Homo sapiens: one gene and its partners. The protein of the gene in region 1 purifies or fractionates together with the protein of each later gene. This does not show direct contact. Each region holds a gene or a part of one and is shown on either strand. Other genes may lie near its edges.

The links. The genes of interacting proteins can lie anywhere in the genome.
Region 2: the proteins of ZC3H18 (region 1) and LUC7L purify together in Homo sapiens (affinity purification with mass spectrometry; 4 studies listed by BioGRID and IntAct, with this or other methods). This does not show direct contact.
Region 3: the proteins of ZC3H18 (region 1) and LUC7L2 purify together in Homo sapiens (affinity purification with mass spectrometry; 5 studies listed by BioGRID and IntAct, with this or other methods). This does not show direct contact.

The regions. Positions count from the first base shown.
Region 1 is NC_000016.10:88,565,956-88,573,484, forward strand, and holds the start of ZC3H18 (zinc finger CCCH domain-containing protein 18), read left to right. Parts: upstream 1-4,447; 5' UTR 4,448-4,611; intron 4,612-7,529.
Region 2 is NC_000016.10:198,450-205,449, reverse strand, and holds part of LUC7L (putative RNA-binding protein Luc7-like 1), read left to right. Parts: intron 1-6,211; coding exon 6,212-6,388; intron 6,389-7,000. UniProt on the Homo sapiens protein: May bind to RNA via its Arg/Ser-rich domain.
Region 3 is NC_000007.14:139,355,646-139,362,893, forward strand, and holds the start of LUC7L2 (putative RNA-binding protein Luc7-like 2), read left to right. Parts: upstream 1-4,248; 5' UTR 4,249-4,616; coding exon 4,617-4,677; intron 4,678-7,248. UniProt on the Homo sapiens protein: May bind to RNA via its Arg/Ser-rich domain.

The sequences.
Region 1 (7,529 bases):
CTTGGAGCTGGGACCAAACAGGACTGGCTAAAACAGGGCAGGGCAGAAGCAGCTTTTTATAAGACACACCAGACTGGGCGCAGTGGCTCATGCCTGTAATCCCAGCACTTTGGGAGCCCAGGCAGGCAGATCACCAGAGGTCAGGAGTTTGAGACCAGCCTGGCCAACATGGTGAAACCCTGTCTCTACTAAAAATACAAAAATTAGCCAGGCATGATGTCCCATGCCTGCAGCCCCAGCTACTCAGGAGATTGAAGCAGAAGAATTGCTTGAGCCCAGGAGACAGAGGTTGTGGTGAGCCGAGATCAGGCCACTGCACTCTAATGTGGGTGACAGAGGGAGACTCCGTCTCAGGAAAAGAAAAAAAAGACACACCCACCAGTGTTCTGTGTCAGTTTACCATCGCCATGGCAACACTCCCACCCCTTTCCATGGCAATGACTCAGTGACCCAGAAGTGACTACTCCTTCCCCAGAAATTTCTGCATAAACTGCCCCTTAATCTGCATGTAATTAAAAGTGGGTATAATGGGTCTGCAGAAGTGCGTTGAGCTGCTGCTCTCTGCCTTCTGGGCAGCCCAGCTCTGCAGGAGCCGTCACGGACCTGCCACACTGCCTCTTCAATCAAGTTGTTCTCTTCTACCTCCGGCTTGTCCTTGAATTCTTTCTTGGGCAAAGCCAAGAACGCTGGCAGGCTAAGCTCCACTTTGGGCCTCACCTGCCCTGCATCACAACCAACCAGCCCGTATCGGGACACGATCATTGACTTAAGTCCACAGTTTACATTACAGTTCACTCTTGGCGTTGTGCGTTATGTGGGTTTTGGCAAATACGTAACGTCCCATAGCTGCCATTATGGGACATTACATATTTGTACTTCTTCATACAGAAGAGTTTTGCCACCCCAGAAATGAGGCTTAAAAGTCATTTACCCACTTCCTGCTCTGGAAGAGGAGGGTCTGTGCTCTCACCGCCTGGCACGCCGTGTTCCATCCAGCCTCTGCTCTCTGAATGGTTTTTAGGCTAAATAAAATGTTTACTAAATATTTTTAAGCACTAATAACAATAACGGCCTTATGCAGTGGCTCACACCTGTAATCCCAGCACTTTGGAAGGCCAAGGTGGGAGGATCGCTTGAGGCCCAGAGTTTGAGACCAGCCTGGGCAACAGAGTGAGACCCCCACCTCTACAAGACCCCCACCTCTACGAAATGAACAAATAAACAAACATGATGGACTCCAGCTTAAAAACAGAACATCCCAACCAGGTCACGCTACTGACTATCAGCCCCCACCGCAGGCTCCGTGGCACTGCCTCCTGGTCACTGCTCCTGGGGCCCCCATCACCGCAGATTCGGCTGCCTGTAATGAGTCGCAGCAACACGAGCCGAAGCATTTGTGTCTGGTTTCTTCTGCGCAACATCCTGCCTCTGAGATCCATGTTGCTTGTAGGGGTAGCGTGTCCTTTTCGTTCCTGTACGATATTCCATTGCATGGGGGTTACACCCCAGCTGGTTCATCGTTCTGTCACTGAAGCACCTTGGGGTTCCTTCTAGTCCGGAGTGTAACGAGTCATGCTGGGGTGAACGATCTTGGATGTGCCTTTTGCTGGACGTAGCAGCTCATCTCTTCCGGGAAGTCACAGAGGAGTAGCACGGCCCAGGTGCCGCCGCACGAAGGCTGCGGTTCCGTGAGCGCCGTCGCAGGCTTCTGGAGCGGGGCCACCATTTTCACTCGAGCACAGGCCGCAGGCTCTGGGTGCCCCACACCCTCAGCAAAACCGCTCATGATTTCAATTTGATAGAAACGTGGACCGGGCGCAGTGGCTCACGCCTGTAATCCCAACACTTTGGGAGGCCGAGGCGGGAGGATCACGAGGTCAGAAGATCGAGACCGTCCTGGCTAACACGGTGAAACCCCGTCTCCACTAAAAATACAAAAAAATTAGCCGGGCGTGGTGGCGGGCGCCTGTAGTCCCAGCTACTCGGGAGGCTGAGGCAGGAGAATCGCTTGAACCCAGGGGGCGGAGGTGGCAGGGAGCCGAGATGGCGCTACTGCACTCCAGCCTGGGCGACAGAGTGAGACTCTGTCTCAAAAAAAAAAAAAAAGAAAGAAAGAAAGAAAAGAAATGTGCCCACCCTGTCTGCTTCTGCACTTGCCTTTGTCATGCAACCTCACAGATGGTCTTCACCCGTTTATTTATATCTGTGTATACACACTGGAGGTTCATGCGTTAGCATTTTTAACAACCGCGATGTTGCAAATGTTGTACCAGATTACTATTACAACAGTACAATCATCTGCTCATCAACATCTGGGTGGTTTTCTGGTTTTTTCCTTTGTTCTTTTTTTTTCTTGAGACGGAGTCTCGCTCTGTTGCCCAGGCTGGAGTGCAGTGGCATGATCTGGGCTCACTGCAAACTCCGCCTCCCGGGTTCATGCCATTCTCCTGCCTCAGCCTCCCGAGTAGCTGGGACTACAGGCGCCCGCCACCACGCCCGGCTAATTTTTTGTATTTTTAGTAGAGACGGGGTTTCACTGTGTTAGCCAGCATGGTCTCGATCTCCTGACCTCGCGATCTGCCCGCCTCGACCTCCCAAAGTGCTGGGATTACAGGCATGAGCCACCGTGCCCGGCTCCTTTGTTCTTTTAGTTATGACTACTAACAGACCTGCTATGTCCTTGTTCATGTCTCATGCCCACGGGCAGATGACACCCCAGTCCGGTGGCCCACCTGTACCACTGGGCATCAGAATCCCCTGAGAGCTCTTCATGGACCACAGGGCCCTGGGACCTCACTCCCAGTCACTGGTGCGGCCACTCTGGGGCAGAGCCCAGGAAGGCACATTGCTAACAACCCCTAGTGATACTGAGGCTGCTTGCCCGGGTCCCACTTGGAGAACCCTGTCGAGGGTGGCACTGCTGGTCACAGGGCACTTCTTTTAACTAACATTGTTTTCCAAAGAGGCTGTGACCAACAGAGTTTACTGTTCATGAAACTCAGATCGCAGACAGGCACGTGTCTGTCACAGCCGGTGCCGGCCGCTCCTTTCCATGGACAGTAACGTCCATGCAGGCTTATGTTCATCAGCTGAGAAAAGGGCACTTGCTGGGTGGGACCTTGTCTTATCGACACATAGAGTCTGCAGAAGGTGCCAACTGGTGTCGCAGGGCTGCTCCTGACACGACCCAAAATCACCAGGGTTGAATTCACATTCCTCTTACGTAACCATAACAAGTTGCTGGGACTACAGGCACGCACCACGGTGCCCTGTTAATTTTTTTGTAGAGACAGGGGTCTTGCTTTGTTGCCCAGGCTGGTCTCAAACTCCTGGAGGAGGTGGTCCTCCCACCTTGGACTCCCAAAGTGCTAGGATTACAGGTGTGAGCCACAGTGCCAGGCCTGTGGTACCTCTTCCAAGGACACTAATCCTATCAGATCAGGACCCCACCCTTATAATCTCATTTAACCTTAATTACTTCTCTAAAGGCCCTTTCTGCAAACACAGTCACATTGGGGATTAAGGCTTCACATACAAATGTTAGGGGGACAGAACTCGGTCCATAGCATGGAGTCGCACAGGTTTTGTCCTTTTGCGATTGGCTTGCTTTACTTAGTATGTTTCCAAGGTTCACCCATGTTGTGGCATGGGTCTGAACTTCACTCTTCTTGATGACTGACTCACACTCCACTGCATGGACAGCCAGCATTTTGTCTGTTCCTCAGTTTGTGGACATCTCGCCCCCTTGTTTCCACCTTGGGGATATGGAGGAAGATGGGATGAGCGAAGCCCTGTGATCCCCAGGACCAGCCACGTCGTTGGCAAGGGTCAGCGCAGGATGAAACCGCCGGCCCCTGGTCTCCGGCCGGGCCCTCCGTCTCTAGAGCAGCTCGCACCGCTGCAGCCCCTGGACGCCCCGGGCTGTGGACGCGCCCGTGGGACACCGCGCTGAGCAGGACACGCGACAGGTCCCCTCACTGGCGCTGCTCGCGTTGAACCGCGCGGGGAGCCAGGCAGCCCACGGGAAAGGTAAGAATTGTTAGGCTTTTAATCTAAAGTCGATACCTCAAAAAATAATTCCGGAGGTAAGCATTTAATATCAACATTCAATAAAGCAGGAAGTATCAGCCCGACGAAGACCGCCTTAAGTTTTCCACTTTGATGAACTCGATCATCCCCGGGGATGAAGAACCCGCCGGCCCAGCCGGAGCCCCGTCACGTGACCCGGCGGCCGCGGGGAGCTCTGTGCGCAGGCGCGGATCCGCACGCCCGCCGCCTGAGAAGCGAACTCCCCGTGGCGCCTGCGCTGTAGCGGGGGTTCGGCTGGCTCGCGCGGGTCCGGGCGCGCGCTGCGGGGGCGGAACCGCGCGGAGGCCGGAAGGAAGCTGGAGGGGGCGGGGCGAGGGAGGGAAGCCCGCCGGCCGTAGGACTACCGTCGCGGCCTGATGACGTCGCACAATGGCCGGCCCCCGCGGGTAGTGGAGCCCGTTTGTTCCGCCCGTGTCGAGCCTGGAGCCAGAACCTGTGAAGAGCGGAAGGGCCAAGGGACGTCTTCTCCACGCCGCTCCGACTCCAGGGGAGCCGTGGCCTCCTCTCCGCCCTAGCGCTGAGGTTAGCTGGGGCCGGGAGGGCGGCGGGAGGCCGGGCCGGCGGCGGCGGGAGGAGGAGGCCGCCGAGGCGGCGGCGGCGGCCGCGGGAGGGAGGCCCGGGAGCCCGGCGCGCCTCCGGCCGTGCGGACCCACCGGCCGAAGCGTGGCCCTCGGGCCCAGGGAAGGGGACCTTGAGACAGGCACCACCCCGAGTTCCGTCCGTAAGCCGGCCCCGCGGTCCTGGGGCGCCCTGGGCGCCCGAGCTCCTCGCGCGCTGCCTCCGCGCCCCGCGGCAGAGTTTATTTTCCTGAAGCTGTCATTTCTCTTCCGGGCCACTCGCGTGGCACATGTGTGCCGCCGGCTAAGGGGCGGTGAGAGGCGCCCAGATTCACCTCCAGAGTAGGTCATCCCGGGCTGCTGCTGGGCTCTTCGGAGAACTTTGAGCTCTTTATGAACCTCCTGGAACTTGCTCCGCAGCTTCAAAGTGTGCACAGGTTGGGCGCAGTGATTGCCCCAAGACGCGCGCCGGTCTCTTAGGAGTATGTAACTTCCTTGCCCCTTGGATTAGGAGATCAGAGGTGCTGGGTCCTTTATATAGACCAACTGCAGCTATAATGCTGGAAGAACTGAAACTTAACAGCCTTACTCCTGCCAAACATTTTTCCTGAATACTTTATGACAACTGAGTTTGCCGGGTAGAGTGGCCGTTTTAAATGAGCTTTGTTCGAACAACGCTAACTCATTTGCAAGAGTAGGTCATTCTTCAGACCCATTTGGGAAAATGGAAGAAGAGAGTGTTTGGCATCTGAAGTACCGTTTGGGGTGTAGCAAGGTGCTCATCATGTCTCCTGTTAGACTCACCTCCAGCCTGTTGTCTGTAGAGTAGTCCTTTCCCGTTCAGTAGTTGGGATTATCCGGGTGAGGTTTGACCTCGGCTGAATCCCGCTTCCCAGCTTTGGGAGGAGAGTCTTTTCCTGATAATTTTACTATCTAAGGGCAGTATGGAGCCCAGCCAGCCCTGGAACCAGTCAAATGTGTCCCAAAGCCGGAAACTCCTCTCCCGTTGTAGGTGGGACATGCTGAAATATTGTAAGAAAGCTTTGTGGAGTCACTCCAGAAAGCAAACAGGTAAGTTAACCTATGGCCTACATCGTGTTTACAGAGATTTGTATTTTGTCACAGCTACAGAGCATCTCAAGGTGAGTACCTCTTTATCAAGGAGTTTAGTGGTCACGCTTGGTCACTTTGCACGTGGGGTCTGTCACCAACCTTGATAACGTTCATTTAGATATTTTAAGTCCATGAGGTTATGAGTCAGAATTTTAACCAGATGTACCAGAACTTAGGCATTCAAATAGGTACTGCTCTGTTGAAAGTAATTGTCCCAAAATGTGCTTGTATTTCATCGGTGCTTCTTTGCCAGAATCTCTTTAGAACTCCTGTTGTGGTAGTAAAAATGTAGTCATATGGGAAAATCAGTCTTATTCAATAGTCACCCTCCAGGTTTGACCAAAAGTTTACTTACGTGGTTGGTAGCTCACCTTATCAGGTGAGACTCTGACTTGCAGCACTTTATCAAAGTGACTAGCTTGAGAGGAGGAAGATTTGCCACCACTAAGAATACCAGAAGACTTCTTTAGGCTTGGAAGGTCATTCGCAATGAGAAGGTCCCCAAACGCTCTGCATTTCAGCAGTGCCGTTGGAGTCTGTGCATCCTCCCAGAGGGGCTGCTCGGAAGGGAGGTAGCACCTGCTCTTTATTATTACTATTATTTTTTGAGACGGAGTCTCACTCTGTTGCCCAGGCTGGAGTGCAGTGGCAGGATCTCGGCTCACCGCAACCTCCTCCTCCTGGGCACTTATTTTAAATTCCTTTCTGGTAGGCAACAGGTAGTTCCTCAATTAACGAGTTTTTTGTCATGTATTCAACAAATATCTATCAAGTATCATCTGCCAAATGCAGAAAGCAACGGAGACGGGACGATGGGCACTTGTTATTTCATTCCTTAGGCAAGTTCACCCATCTGGTGGATCAGAGGACTAAGGATTTAGTTCTAAATTGTGCTGAAAATCTTCAGTTATAGATAGTGTAAGAAGACCAAACTGAGCACAAATTGCAAACGTGGGTATCAGTTGAGACTCTTCTACTGACACCCCTGTCTACACTTCTCATTTCATTGTCTACACTTAAGAGGCCACGTTTCCCTTCGTAGCACCTTATTACTATTTTTTGAAACGGAGTCTCACTCTGCTACCCAGGCTGGAGTGCAGTGGCATGATCTCGGCTCACTGCAACCTCCTCCTCCTGGGTTCAAGTGATTCTCCTGCCTCAGCCTCCTGAGTAGCTGGGACTACAGGCACGTGCCACCATGCCCAGCTAATTTTTGTATTTTTAGTAGAGACAGGGGTTTCACTGTGTTGGCCAAGGTGATCTCGAACTCCCAACCTCGTGATCCTCCCGCTTCAGCCTCCCAAAGTGCTGGGATTACAGGCATGAGCCACCACACCCAGCCAATTGTGTGATTTTTAAAACTAGTTTGAGGAGACATTTAGTTTTGCATAAAAGTTGGTTTATTTAAGAGATCACTTTGTTTCCAAGGTTGACATTAAACTATAAAACATGAGAATCAGAATTTGTCATATTTCAGGTCTGGGTTCAGCTTGGGGCATCCTACTGGGCACCAGGCGCTCCGCTTAGGCAGCTGGGGAGATGTGAACTACCTGCCCTTCTATGAGGAAGATGTTTATACATTGTAATAAAAAGTGTACGAAGATAGTATAGGGTGTTACTAATGTCGATAGCTAGGCAAGAGAGAGAATTGCCAGTTTGCCACCGGTGACTTACTGCCACAACCCCACGCAGACTCCCAGTCTTGAACAGTCAGTGCGTAGAGGCCTTAGCAGCCTTGGTGCTTTTCATCCTTGCTTTTGTTGCCTTGGG
Region 2 (7,000 bases), about 88 Mb from region 1:
ACCCAAAGTCTGCAGAAAATGTTAGGTATGTCATGAATACATAAAATATATGAGGATACTAGTCTTTTATTTACTGCCATAAAATATACACAAGTCTATTATGAAAAGGTAACATTTGTCAAAACTTAAGCATATGGCCAGCTATGGTGGCTCTTGGCTTTAGTCTCAGCTGTTCGGGAGGCTGAGATGAGAGGATCCCTTAATCCTAGGACTTTTGGAGTCCAGCCTGGATAACATAGCAAGACCCTGTCTCTAAAAAAGAAGAGGCTACATGCAAACGCTTACAGACCATACATGACAGCATTCGCCGTAGAGAGATGTTAACAAACGTAGTGCAGAGGTGCAGTATTAAATCAGGGCTGCCTAAGAATAACTGTAATAGGTACTGTACTACTGTAATAATTCATGCCACTTCCTGTTGCCATTGTGTGGAGCTCAAGGGTCGTGAGTATCCCCTTGAAACACCACGTGACACTCATCATCTCCGAAGGAGCAGTTCACCTCTCCAGTACATTCCTACTGCAGTAAAAAGTGAACTCACAGGGTTCCTAGGCGTTTTTCATCGTGTTTAGTGCAATACCATAAACTTTGAGTAATGCCATAGGATCCATATGCCACTAGTGATGCTGAAAATGCTCCCAAGAAGGCAAGAACAGCCATGATATTACAAGAAAAAGTTGAGTTGCTTGATGTATACATTAGATTGAGGTCTGCAGCTGCAGTTGCTACCATTTCAGACGGACAATTCATCTTGTAAATGAGCAGTGTAAACGTACAGAAGTGATCAGTACAGCACAGTACTATAAATGTATTTTATTTTCTCTTCCTTATAATTTTCTCTCTTTTTTTTTTTTTTGAGATGGAGTCTCGCTCTGTCCCCCAGGCTGGAGTGCAGTGGTGCGATCTCAGTTCACTGCAAGCTCCGCTTCCTCGGTTCACACCATTCTCCTGCCTCAGCCTCCAGAGTAGCTGAGACTACAGGCGCCCACCACCACGCCCGGCTAATTTTTTTGTACTTTCAGTAGAGATGGGGTTTCACTGTGTTAGCCAGGATGGTCTCAATCTGACCTCGTGGTCCACCCGCCTCGGTCTCCCAAACTGCTGGGATTACAGGAGTGAGCCACCATGCTCGGCCCATGGCTAATTTTTTTTTTTTTTTTTCATTTCTAGTAGGGATGGGGTTTCACCGTGTTGGCCAAGCTGGTCTCAAACTTCTGACCTCAGGTGATCCGTCTGCCTTGGCCTCCCAAAGTGCTGGGATCACAGGCGTGAGCCACTTCGCCAGGCCATTTGATACCTTTTATGAGTCTTGTAATTTTTCTCATAGTGAAGATCTCATGCATGTTTTGTTAGATTTCTACCTAAATATTTCATGCTTGCGGGTGCTGGTGTAATTGGTCATTTGTTTTTTGGTTTTTGTTTTTGTGTTTTTTTGAGATGGAGTCTCATTCATTCGCCCAGGCTGGAGTGCAGTGGCGTGATCTCGGCTCACTGCAACCTCCGCCTCCCGGGCTCAAGCGATTCTCCTGCCTCAGCCTCCCGAGTAGCTGAGACTATAGGCGTGTGCCACCATACCTGGCTAATTTTTTGTGTTTTTAGTAGAGATATGATTTAACCGTGTTAGCCAGGATGGCCTCTATCTCCTGACCTCATGATCCGCCTGCCTTGGCCTCTCAAAGTGCTGGGATTACAGGTGTGAGCCACCGCGCCCAGCCCTCCCCACCTCCACCCCGCCCCCCGCCCTGAGACGGTCTCACTTTCTCACCCAGGCTGGAGTGCAGTGGCGCGATCTTGGCTCACTGAAGGCTTGATCTCCTGGGCTCATTTGATTCTCCCGCCTCAGCCTTTCAAATAGCTAGGACTGAAGGCACATGCCACCAAGCCCAGCTAATTTTTTGTATTTTTTGGAGAGACTGGGTTTCGCCATGTTGTCAAGGCTGGTCTTGAAATCCTTGGCTCAAGCGATCTGCCTAGCTCTGCTTCCCAAAGTGCTGGGATTAGAGTCATGAGTCACCATGATGCCTGGCCTCTTGTAATACCTTTATCTGGTTTTGGTATTATGGTAATGTCCCCATAGAAGGAGTTAGAAGATACTCTCTCTGCTTCTATTTTCTGAAAGCGATTGTAGAGAATTGGCATGATTTGCTCCCTAATGCTTTGGTAGAATTCACCAGTAAACCCATCTGGACCTGATGCTTTCTGTTTTGGAAGGTTATTAATATACAGATTCATTCAGATCATCTGTTTCTTCTTGTGTGAGTTTTGGCAGATTGTGTCTTTCAACATTATTATACTTTTTTTTTACACGGAGTCTCTCTCTGTTGCCCAGGCTGGAGTGCGGTGGTGCGATGGCTCGCTGCAACCTCCAACTCCTGGGTTCAACTGATTATCCTGCCTCAGCCTCCTGAGCAGCTGAGATTACAGGTGCCTGCCACCATGCCCAGCTAATTTTTGTATTTTTAGTAGAGAAGACGGGGTTTCACCATGTCGGTCAGGCTGGTCTCAAACTCCTGACCTCAAGTGATCCACCTGCCTCAGCCTCCCACAGTGCTGGGATTACAGGCGTGAGCCACTGCTCCTGGCTGTCTTTGAAGGGATCGGTCCATTTCATCTAGTTTATCGCTTTTGTGGGCATGGAGTTGTTGTTTTTAAGAGTTGTTTGTATTATTCCTTTAAAGTGGGTGGATCCGTAATGATGTCCTGTCTTTCATTTCTGATATTAGTACAGTCATATCTTTCTTAATGACAAGGATTAAATATTCTGAGAAGTGCGTTCCATGGTTCATCATTGTGAGAACATTATAGAGTGTGCTTAACAAACCTGGGTGGTATAGCCATGTGGGCTGTATGGTAGAGCCCATTGCTCCTAGGCTCCACACCTGTACAGCATGTTACTGTGCTGAATACTATAGGCAGTTGCAACACAGTGGGCCCCTAAATATTTGTGTACGTAAACATAGAAAAGGTACAGTAAAAATACAGTATAAAAGATAAAAAATAACACTTGATACGGTTTGGATGTGTGGCACGTCCAAATCTCATGTTGAAATGTGACCTCCAATGTTGGAGGTGGGGTCTAGTGGGAGGTGTTTGGGTCATGGGGGTGGTTCACTCATCAATGGCTTGGTGCCCTCCCTGGGATAGTGAGTTCACCTCAGAGCTGATTGTTTAAAGGAGCCTAGGTCCTTCTCTCTGTCTCACTCCTTCTTTTGCCATGTGATATGCTGACTCCCCTTTTGCTGCCTTCTGCCCAGCGTAAAAGCTTATGGAGGGTGGGTATGGTGGCTCATGCCTGTAATCTCAACACTTTGGAAGGTCGAGGCAGGAGGATTGCTTGAGTCCAGGAGTTTGAGACCAGCCTGGGCAACATAGGGATACCCCATCTTTACAAAGAAATTAAAAATATGGCCGGGCACGGTTGCTCATGCCTGTAATCCCAGCACTTTGGGAGGCCAAGGTAGGTGCATCACCTGAGGTCAGGAGTTCGAGACCAGCCTGGCCAACTTGGTGAAACCCCATTTCTACTAAAAGTATAAAAATTAGCCAGGTGTGGTGGCGGGCACCTGTAATCCCAGCTACTTGGGAGGCTGAAGTAGGAGAATCGCTTGAACCCAGAAGGCGGAGGTTGCAGCGAACAGAGATCGTGCCATTGCACTCCAATATGGGTGACAGAGCAAGACTCTCTCTCAAAAAAAAAAAAAAAAAAAAAAAAGCCTGGTGCGGTGGCTCACGCCTGTAATCCCATCACTTTGGGAGGCTGAGGCGGGTGGATCACGAGGTCAGGAGATCGAGACCATCCTGGCTAACATGGTGATACTCCGTCTCTACTAAAAATACAAAAAATTGGCCGGGCGTGGCGGCGTGCGCTTGTAGTCCCAGCTACTCAGGAGGCTGAGGCAGGTGAATGGTGTGGACCCGGGAGGCAGAGCTTGTAGTGAGCTGAGATCGTGCCACTGCATTCCAGGCTGGGCGACAGAGCGAGACTCCGTCTCAAAAAAAAAAAAAAAGTTATGTAAATGGAATCATACAGTAGGTAACCTTTTGGGACTGACTTTTTTTACTCAACATAATCAGAGTTTATTTTGAAAGATGTTAGAAGGTGGCATTTAAGGTTTCAAAACTATAGAAGGGGACAGAGTAATGTTATGAATATTTGTGTACCACAATATTGTTTTTGCTTAAGTTTTTTTTTTTTTTTTTTTTTTTTAGTTATGTAGCATACTATAATGGAAATTCAAGTTCTTGCTAGTTCCTTGTCTACTTTTTTTTTTTTTTTTTTCTCAGACAGAGTCTCGCTCTGTCGCCCAGGCTGGATTGCTGTGGTGCGATCTCGGCTCACTGCATCCTCTGACTCCCGGGTTCAAGTAATTCTCAGACTCAGCCTCCCGAGTAGCTGGGATTACAGGTGCCAGCCACCGTGCCCAGCTAATTTTTTTGTATTTTTAATAGAGACGGGGTTTCACCTTCTCGGACTCCTGACCTTGTGATCCACCTGCCTTGGCCTCCCAAAGTGCTGGGATTGCAGGTGTTAGCCACTGTGCCCAGCCTATTTTTTTTAATATTAGAGGGTCCTGCTGTCAGCCAGGGTCACCCAGGCTGAAGTACAGTGGCGCAGTCACAGGTCACTGCCCCTTCAACCTCCTGGGCTCAAGCAGTCCTCTCGAATCAGTCTCTTGAGTAGGTGGGACTATAGGCACGTGCCACCACAGCGGGCTAATTATTTTCTTATTTTTAGAGACTGAGTCTTGCTGTGTTGCTCAGGGTGATCTCAATCTCCTGGGGCCAAGTGATCTTCTTGCTTCACTCTCCTAAAGTGCTGAGATTATAGGTGTGAGTCACTACACCAGGCCTGGAATACAATTTTTTTTTTTTCCTTTTTGGAGTTTTCCTCTGTCCTCCAGGTTGGAATGCAGTGGTGTGATCTCAGCTCACTGCAACCTCCACCTCCTGGGCTTAAACAATTTGTGCCTCAGCCTCTCCAGTAGCTGGAATTACAGATGCCTGCCACCATCTGGCTTTTTTTTTTTTTTTTTCTTTTGAGACGGAGTCTCGCTCTTTCGCCCAGTGGCATGATCTTGGCTCACTACAAGCTCCGCCTGCCGGGTTCACGCCATTCTCCTGCCTCAGCCTCCTGAGTAGCTGGGACTACAGGCGCCCGCCACCACGCCCAGCTAATTTTTTCTGTTTTTTTAGTAGAGACGGGGTTTCACCGTGTTAGCCAGGATGGTCGTGATCTCCTGACCCCATGATTCGCCTGCCTCAGCCTCCCAAAGTGCTGGGATTACAGGCGTGAGCCACCGCGCCCGGCCAATTTTTGTATTTTTAGTAGAGACAGGGTTTTGCTATGTTGCCAGGCTCGTCTTGAACTCCTGGCCTCAAGTGATCTGTCTGCCTTGGCCTCGGAATGCTGGGATTACAGGCGTGAGCCACTGAGCCCAGCCTGTTAGTACCTTTTTTTTTTAAGATGGAGTCTCGCTCTGTTGCCAGGCTGGAATGCAGTGGCACGGTTTTGGCTCACTGCAACCTCCGCTTCCCAGGTTCAAGTGATTCTCCTGCCTCAGCCTCCTGAGTAGCTGGGACTACAGGCATGTGCCACCACACCCAGCTGATTTTTGTATTTTTAGTAGAGACGGGGTTTCACAAAGTTGGCCAGGATGGTCTCGATCTCTCTTTTTTTTTTTTTTTTTTTTTTTGAGACAGGGTTTTGCTCTTGTTGCCTGTGCGATCTCAGCTCAACAGCAACCTCCGCCTCCCGAGTTCAAGCCATTCTCCTGCCTCAGCCTCCAGAATAGCTGGGATTACAGGCATGCGCCACCACACCCGGCTACTTTTGTATTTTTAATAGAGATGGGGTTTCTCCATGTTGGTCAGGCTGATCTTGAACTCCGGACCTCAGGTGATCCGCCAGCCTCAGCCTCCCAAAGTGCTGGGATTACAGGCGTGAGCCACCGCGCCTGGCCTGGTCTTGATCTCTTGACCACATGGTCCGCCCACCTGGCCTCACAAAGTGCTGGGACCGTGCCTGGCCGCGTTTCTTAAATAAACAGTGAAAATTGAGTTGGTTATAAATATCTGAAGTTTTGTTTGTGTTTTTTTAATATTTGTTTAAAAGTCACCTCTGTCATCTTATCAAATATTTTCATTTTGGAGATTGAATTTGTGGTGGCAGTTCTATATACCTCACTTTTATTTCTCCATTTTCCTTCTTCAGGAAGAATACAGAAATTCCATGCCTGCATCCAGTTTTCAGCAGCAAAAGCTGCGTGTCTGCGAGGTCTGTTCAGCCTACCTTGGTCTCCATGACAATGACCGTCGCCTGGCAGACCACTTCGGTGGCAAGTTACACTTGGGGTTCATTCAGATCCGAGAGAAGCTTGATCAGTTGAGGGTATGTTCATCTGTTTCTGGAGAAAGCTGAGGAGTCTTGGGGTGTTTTCACATTTCTTTAATTTTTAAAAACCTTATGTTTTGGCCGGGCGTGGTGGCTGATGCCTATAATCCCAGCACTTTGGGAGGCCGAGGTGGGCGAATCACCTGAGGTCAGGAGTTCGAGACCAGCCTGACCAACATGGTGAAACCCCGTCTCTACCGAAAAATTAGCCAGGTGTGTTGGTGTGAGCCTGTAATCTTAGGTACTCGGGAGGCTGGGGCAGAAGAATTGCTTAAACCCAGGAGGCAGAGGTTGCAGTGAGCCGAGATCATGCCATTGCATTCCAGCCTGGGCTATAGAGTAAGACTCCATCTCAAAAAAAAAACAAAAAACATTATGTTCTGATCTCTAAGAACTTGAGTTTTATAGTGAAATACGCAGATTTCATCACTTGGATTCACACAAGAGACATGATAGCTCAGAGTCCAAAGGAGCCTTGGAGATTTATTTTGGACCCTGTCGTTAAGGGAAGAAAATGGCAGAGCCTGTTCCCAGAATACATACAGCTCGTTGTGTATCTCTGAAATAACTTCTGTTAGGAGATGAGAAAGAATCTCTGGTTGGTCAAGA
Region 3 (7,248 bases), on another chromosome or scaffold:
TCCATAGTGACATTAATGAACTATAAAATTTGTCAGAAAAAGGCATCGGCTTTGAAAGACCAAGGTAAAAAGTGCAAGACTGAGAGTAAAGAGATAGGATACAGTGAAAACTATCTAATATGCATGTATTTAAATGTCCAGAAGTTGATGAGAGGGGCAATATCTGAGGAGGTAAGAGCTAAGAATTTCCTAAATTGACAAAAGATGTTAGTTAATGGATTCTCAATGAACGAATGAATGAAAACTCATTGTTCAATGAGTCCATAATGGCATGATAAAGTAGCCAGCTATCTTTAAAAGAGTGAAAAACAGAACTGACTTCTTAGGAGCAGTGGAAGGTAAAAGGTTAGGTAGAATGTATGTGCCCAAAGAAAATAACCACTGGGCGTGGTGGCTCACACCTGTAATTCCAGCACTTCAGGAGGCTGAGGTGGGCAGATTGCTTGAGCCCAGGAGTTTGAGACCAGCCTGGGCAACATAGGGAGACCTTGTCTCTACAAGAAAAATTTTAAAAATTAGCTCAGTGTGGTGGTGCATACCTGCAGTCCCAGCTACTTGAGAGGCTGAGGTGGGAGGATCACTTGAGCCCGGGAAGCCAAGGCTGCAGTGAGCCAAGGCGAGATCTCGCCACTGCACTCCAGCCTGGGTGACAGAGCAAGACCCTATCTCAAAAAAAAAAAAAAAAAAAAAAAAAAAAAGGAACCTCCAACCTAGGATTTAGCTAATAAAAATATCCATTTAGAATTTAAAGCAAAATAAAGATCTTTTTAGATAAACAAAATGGGAGCGTTCCCCCAACTAGCCGACCAACACAAAAACAAACCCTGAAGCAAGGTAGGCAAACTTCATAGTCAGGCTGGGCACAGTGGCTCACCCTGGTAATCTCAGCACTTTGGGAGGCCGAGGCAGGTGGATCACTTAAGGTCAGGAGTTTGAGACCAGCCTGGCCAACATGGTGAAAACCTGCGTTAAAAAAAAAAAAAAAGTCAGATAGTAAATATTTGAGTGTTGTAGGCCACACAGTATGGGATCCCTCACAAACCACCCAACTCTATTGTGGGGCAAAAGCAACCACAACAATATGTAAATGAACGAGCCTGGCAGTATTCGAATTTTTGTGAAACTTTATTCACAAAAATAGGCCGTGGGCTGCATTTGGCCTGTGGACCGTAGCTTGCTGACTCCTGTGCTAAAGGATAAACTTCAGACAAAAAGGAAATGATCCCAGATGGACAGGCAGAGATTTCCGAAGGAATGAAGAGCAAAATAAGTGGTAAATAAAGAACATTGATTATATAAAACTTGGTTTTAAAAAATAAGAGAACTAAAAGACCTGGTAACAAGAGCATATAACTTGGGATGAGAGTAAATGGAGTTAGTGTTCTAGGTTCCTTGTATTACCTCTCTTGGGGGAGGGGAGTATAAAGGTATTGATTAAATTAGACTTTGATACCTTAAGGATACACATTATAACTTCTAGGGTAATCACTGAAAGAATAAAAATATAATAAAATGAAACTTCCACACTACTAGAGTGGAAGAAATTGGAATGATTAAAAATCAGGCAGGAAAGGAGAGAAAAACATGAAATAGATGAGACAAATAGGCAAAAATAAGAGTTTTAAACCCAAACACAGGAGTAATTACATGAATATAAATCATCAATGCTTCCAAGAGTGAACATCACTTAATTCACTCCTCAATTTCACTCCTCAATTTTGATCATTATGTATTGTATAGACTATTTTTAAGCCCCAATTATATGCTGTTTATAAGACATCTAAAATAAAAAAAAGAACTCAAATCTCTTCAACAAAACATAATTATTGGTTTTAGTGTATTTCTTTAAATACACTGTTTTTCAGGGTCAGATCACATTGTGTACATAATAGTGTATCCCTCAAAGACATATTAATTTGCACATTTTTCTATTATTATAAATCAGTTCCCAAAGGATATCCTAGTATTTGGAGTTTGGAATTCAGAGTTCTCTGAATAACTGAAGAGAAGCTATTTTGTGTATTACTAAAGATAACTTGATTCAAAATAATTTTTTTTTTTTTTTTGAGATGGAGTCTCACACTCACCAGGGCTGGAGTGCAATGGCGCGATCTCGGCTCACTGCAACCTCCGCCTCTTGGGTTCAAGCGGTTCTCCTGCCTCAGCCTCCGGTGTAGCTGGGACTACAGGCATGCGCCACCACGCCCAGCTCATTTTTTCTATTTTTAGTAGAGACAGGGTTTCACCATGTTGGCAGGCTGGTCTCAAACTCCCGACCTCGTGATTCGCCCGCCTCGGCCTCCCAAAGTGCTGGGATTCCAGGTGTGAGCCACTGCGTCCGACCTCAAAAATTTTCATTGGCCCAATACGCATTTATTTTTGAGATAGAGTCTTGCTTTGTACCCAGCCTGGAGTGCAGTGGCATAATCTCGGCTTACTGCAACCTCCACTTCCCGGGTTCAAGTGATTCTCCTGCCTCAGCCTCCGAGTAGCTGGGATTACAGGCACGCGCATCCATGCCCGGCTAATTTTTGTATTTTTAGTAGAGATGGAATTTCACCATGTTGGTCAGGCTGGTCTCGAACTCCTGACCTCAAGGTGATCCGCCCGCCTCTGCCTCCCAAAGTACTGGGATTACAGGCATGAGCCATCCCTCCCAGCCGCAATATACATTTAAAGGAATTTTGGGACTATTACTACTATTCATGTTTTTTATTGATCTGCTAATAACAGTTCCAAGGCGATGAGTATACAGTGTTAATGGAACACAAATCTCTATTATTTCCTTTCAAAGTATCCAGGAAGTGCCTGTCTTCTTAAACATTTGATTTTATTAACTCATTCTTCTTACAGTTTTAAATTTCTTTTTAGGCGATGAATATACAGTGTTAATGGAACACAAATCTCTATTATGTCCTTTCAAAGTATCTAGAAAGTGCCTGTCTTCTTAAACATTTGGTTTTATTAACTCATTCATTTTTCTTACAGTTTTAGATTTCTTTTTAAGCAACCTTTCTTCCTGCACACTGACCTATGTCTTACTTAAGGAATTTTTTTTTTTAGAAGTCTCGCTCTGTCGCGCAGGTTGCAGCGCAGTGGCGTCATCTCGACTCACTGCAACCTCCGTCTCCCGGGTTCAAACGATTCTCCTGCCTCAGCCTCCCGAGTAGCTGGGGAGGCGCCCGCCATCACGCCCGGCTAATTTTTATATTTTTAGTAGAGACAGGGTTTCACCATGTTGGCCAGGCTGATCTTGAACTCCTGACCTCAGGCAATCCACCTCCCTTGGCCTCCCAAAGTGCGGGGTTTACAGGCGTGAGCCACCGCGCCCGGCAAGGAATTAATATTTTACTAAAACAGTTTTTAGAAACACCAGGGAAAGGCTCAGGGCTAAGTATTTTATTCCAGTTTGTTCTAACAGCCACGCCATAGCAGACGTGTGACCACCTCCACCAGCCCTACGAGGGGTAGAACTGAAGCCAAGGCCCCAGTCACGGGCCGGGCTTCAGAATCCAGGCTTCCCTGCGGCCAGCGCCGCTGGCTCCCTGCTCCCCGAGATCGCCTCCCCAGTAGCTGAGAATACGCTGAGTTTTTATGGTTTCACATTCAGACTAAGCCGCCCGCGACCTTGTAGGTAAAGATGAATCCGAATGGGTCGGCGCGCCTGTTTCCTAGGGTACTGCTTTCGGGCGCTTTCTCCTGAAGTTGACACTTCCCAGCCGAGGAGCCTTAAAGCCCCACGCAGCGGAAGGAACGCGGCCCCGGCGGCGGCGAGACAGGCCTGCTCCCGGCCGGGAAAGGCGCACGAGAACCAGGACGCGTCCACGCCACTCGGGGCGGGCGTTCGCCCCGAGCACGCCCACCTCAGACGCCAAGGAGGCTGACCGCAGTCCGGTCGACGATGGGCATGGTCTCTACTTACTTTCCGCCCAGGCTAACCTCTAGCGCATTTTGCTAATTTGGGTCTGAATCGCCATCACCGCGGGCAGCGCAGCCTTAGCCGCCAGCCCTACAGCCGGGAGGGAATGTAATGTAAGGTTTGGCGCCTCGGGGCGGATCCGGCTTGCACAGTCAGTTAAGGAACCAGAGTATCGCGAGATCCGGGGTAAAGGGGCGGGAGGAGCGCGCGTGCACGCGCCCAGAGCCGTTAGGGTGGAACTCCACTCGGGCGGGGCGGGCGGAGTGATACAGCTGGACGCCAGTTGGTGGAGCCCCCGCGGGAAACGACTGAGCGCGAGGAGCGTGCGCGCTCCCGTCGTGGCGACGGTGGCGGCGAGCGGCGTCAGAGCTTGAGGGGGGGTTGACGGCTTCTGGCGGGTGGCGGTGTTGAAGGCGAGAGCTTGCTTGGCCCGTGTCGCTTCTGTCCCAAGAACCGGACGGAGAGTGAGGGCACGAGGGTCGCTGTCGGGGGCTGTCGTCTTCCACGTACACGTCGTCGTGAGGAGCGCAGTCCGGACTCTTCCCGCAACCCCTCCGGCTCCCTTTCCGCACGCCTCGAGGCGGCGGCGGCCACCGAGACAGCAGCGCACCTTCCCCCATCCCTTCCCCTTATCCCCCAGCCCAAAAGGGCCCGGTCTGCGCCCCACCCCCGCCCGTCCGCCCGCTACGCCGCCGCCATGTCGGCGCAGGCCCAGATGCGCGCGATGCTGGACCAGTTGATGGGCACCTCCCGGGACGGTAAGTCTCTGCCAGGGCCCTGGGGGTGGGGGAGGGGACGGGGACGGCGAAGGGAAGGGGTTCCGAGGGCGCACCTGGGCGCGCGCGTGTGGCTGAGTAAGGGGCTCCCAGATTGGTAACACGAGGTCCCCGTCCCCCGTCCCATCCAATCAGGGCTCGGCAGGCGGGCAGGGGGGGCGGTGACCATGCGGATTGGCGGGAACTGCTGCCAATGGGGTGAGGCGGGGCCTGGAGGCAGAAAGGAGAGTTTGTGCTTTTAATGTTGACTTGGCTGAGACGGGAGAGCCCGCGTCTCTGTTGCGTAGTTGGGGGGCCCGTTTTGTCGCTGGTTAGGTACCTGCGGAAAGCTAAGGCCTCCACCCCCGATATAATTCCTTAACCCAGAGCTTTGGGATCATCCCTCGCCGCCGTCCTCCAGAGTACCTAGAGAGAAGCTTCCCCCTCCTCTTCCTGGGTCAGGAGGAAACCTTTATTACTAACCCAGTCTCAGAGATGCACCCTCGAGCCCCACAGAAACAACCATTTTTATGGAAAATCTGACCCAAACCATGGTTTCTTAAGTGGGTGTGTTTGGCCCCATTTTGTGAGAAGGAACATGTTATGGCCTGTTTTTCCGAGAGACCTCCATTTTGTTAGACAATTTAATAGAGGCTTTGTTCAGTAAATATTGACAAATGTTGCATGTCCCTAACAGAACGATTTTGAAAATTTGGTACCCAGTGAAGTAGAATAGAGGAGAACAAAGATCCTTTCAGGCGTTTAGTTTAGAATCTGTATAGAGAGCCCTTAATTGCTGGATTATCCTTTGTCATAAAGAGAATTTCTAAATAAAATGATGAAATGCTGTTGCTTTTTTGGTGATGTTAATTAGTAATGTACTCTCAAATTCAACTTAAATACATTCAAATATGTAGGAAAGGTCTAGTTCATTACTTTCTTAACACAGCAAAATCCTTGGTAGTTTTTATGTGTTGCTTCTTTAGGCAGATAGTTTCTTAGCCACTAAGGAAATGCTTTTTTTCTTGAGAAGTTATTTAAGTGTATTGATTTAAGAGAAAAGGCACGTCTTAAATTTAGTTTTTAAGTTACTCTTTTAATTTACATGAGTGCTTTACAGCAAAATATGAGTAAATTTTAAAAATTTTATTGCATTCAAATCTTTCAGCAGTGCGTAGAGTGGCTTTTCAGTGTTCACATTTTCAGTTTTAATAAAAACCCATATTGGGAACTTTTATTTGTAGAATATATAGACAAATAGGTGTAGATGGCAAACCTACTTGTGGTTGTGTAGAGAGGAAAGATTGGGAAGGAAATGAGTTTTGTATGGAAAGTTAACATTAACTTAAAATGCCACTGGAGAAACTTTTAACTGTTATCATTTCTCACGTTTAGATAAGAATGGTTACTTTATCACTGCAGCATGTCTTAACATTCCTCCTTTTCCAACATGAGAGAGGGTATTGGGAACGGGTTTCATTGGATCCTAGCTAACAGAATAACTAATCTGTGTAATAAAATTAAGTTATTTAAGACGTGCTTTACATGATCCTTTTAATCCTTGATGGATACCATTTTTGGGATCTTCTTCATGGATTGGATTTCTTAGTTTTACTGGGAGGGTAGTTGGATCAAGGTAAACCATCTCCTGATAAGTTTCTGAATTAGGCAGCCCGTCTAGTATTGCAAAGCTAAATTTAAATATATATATTTCTGTGTGTGTAGTCAGCAGAAACATGGATTTCTTAAAATCCACTTTGTGTATTTTTTTATGTGTCTGTTACTGGATTTTTTTTTTTAACCTTCAGACTTAGAGGATTTATGATCGAACTCATATTTACGAGTCCACAGTATTGTTTAGCTGAAATGACTGGATTTTCACTGCTGTATTGGGTTAGAAGTAAAAAATATACTACTTTCAAGGAAAAATAATTGAGTGGAGTTTTTTTTAGATATCAAAATTAATTCTATATATGCAAAATAATCAGAACATTCTTTTTTTTCTTACCATTTAATGAGTTTATATATATCATTTTATGATTCAGGACTTTTAATAATTAGGATTGTTCTTTTTTAGCATACAGTCAACTTCAAGTTACCCAGGGATAGGGGAACATGGAAACGTCCCCTGAATAACACCATGTAATTTGAAACCATTTAATGGGAACCCTTGTATTGGACACACAAACAGCCTATGGGAACGCTGTTGGGTGTCTTTGGCACTAAGAGGTGGAAATGGGTATCCAGGAGGTGGGAGAGAGATGGAAAAGGTAGGTAGGAGGGTATTTAAGGCAACTCTGTCCTTTTTTTTTTTTTTTTTTAATTCCAGAGACTATAAAGCAGCGACTCTCTTTTTTGGAAGTGGGGTTCAAGGTGGCAGTGACCCCCTCCACTCTTAGTGTCCTGTCTGTGAAGGAATCTGAAGTGGCACAGAGTCCTGGGGCTTTGGGAAAACATTACCTCCTCACCCCCTCAAGGTTTCTTCCCCCTCCCCTTCCTGACAGTTTTTAATTAGTTCCTTTTAAAATTCATTGGAGATTTAAGTCTGTTAGTTAAATATACCTTAACTTGAAT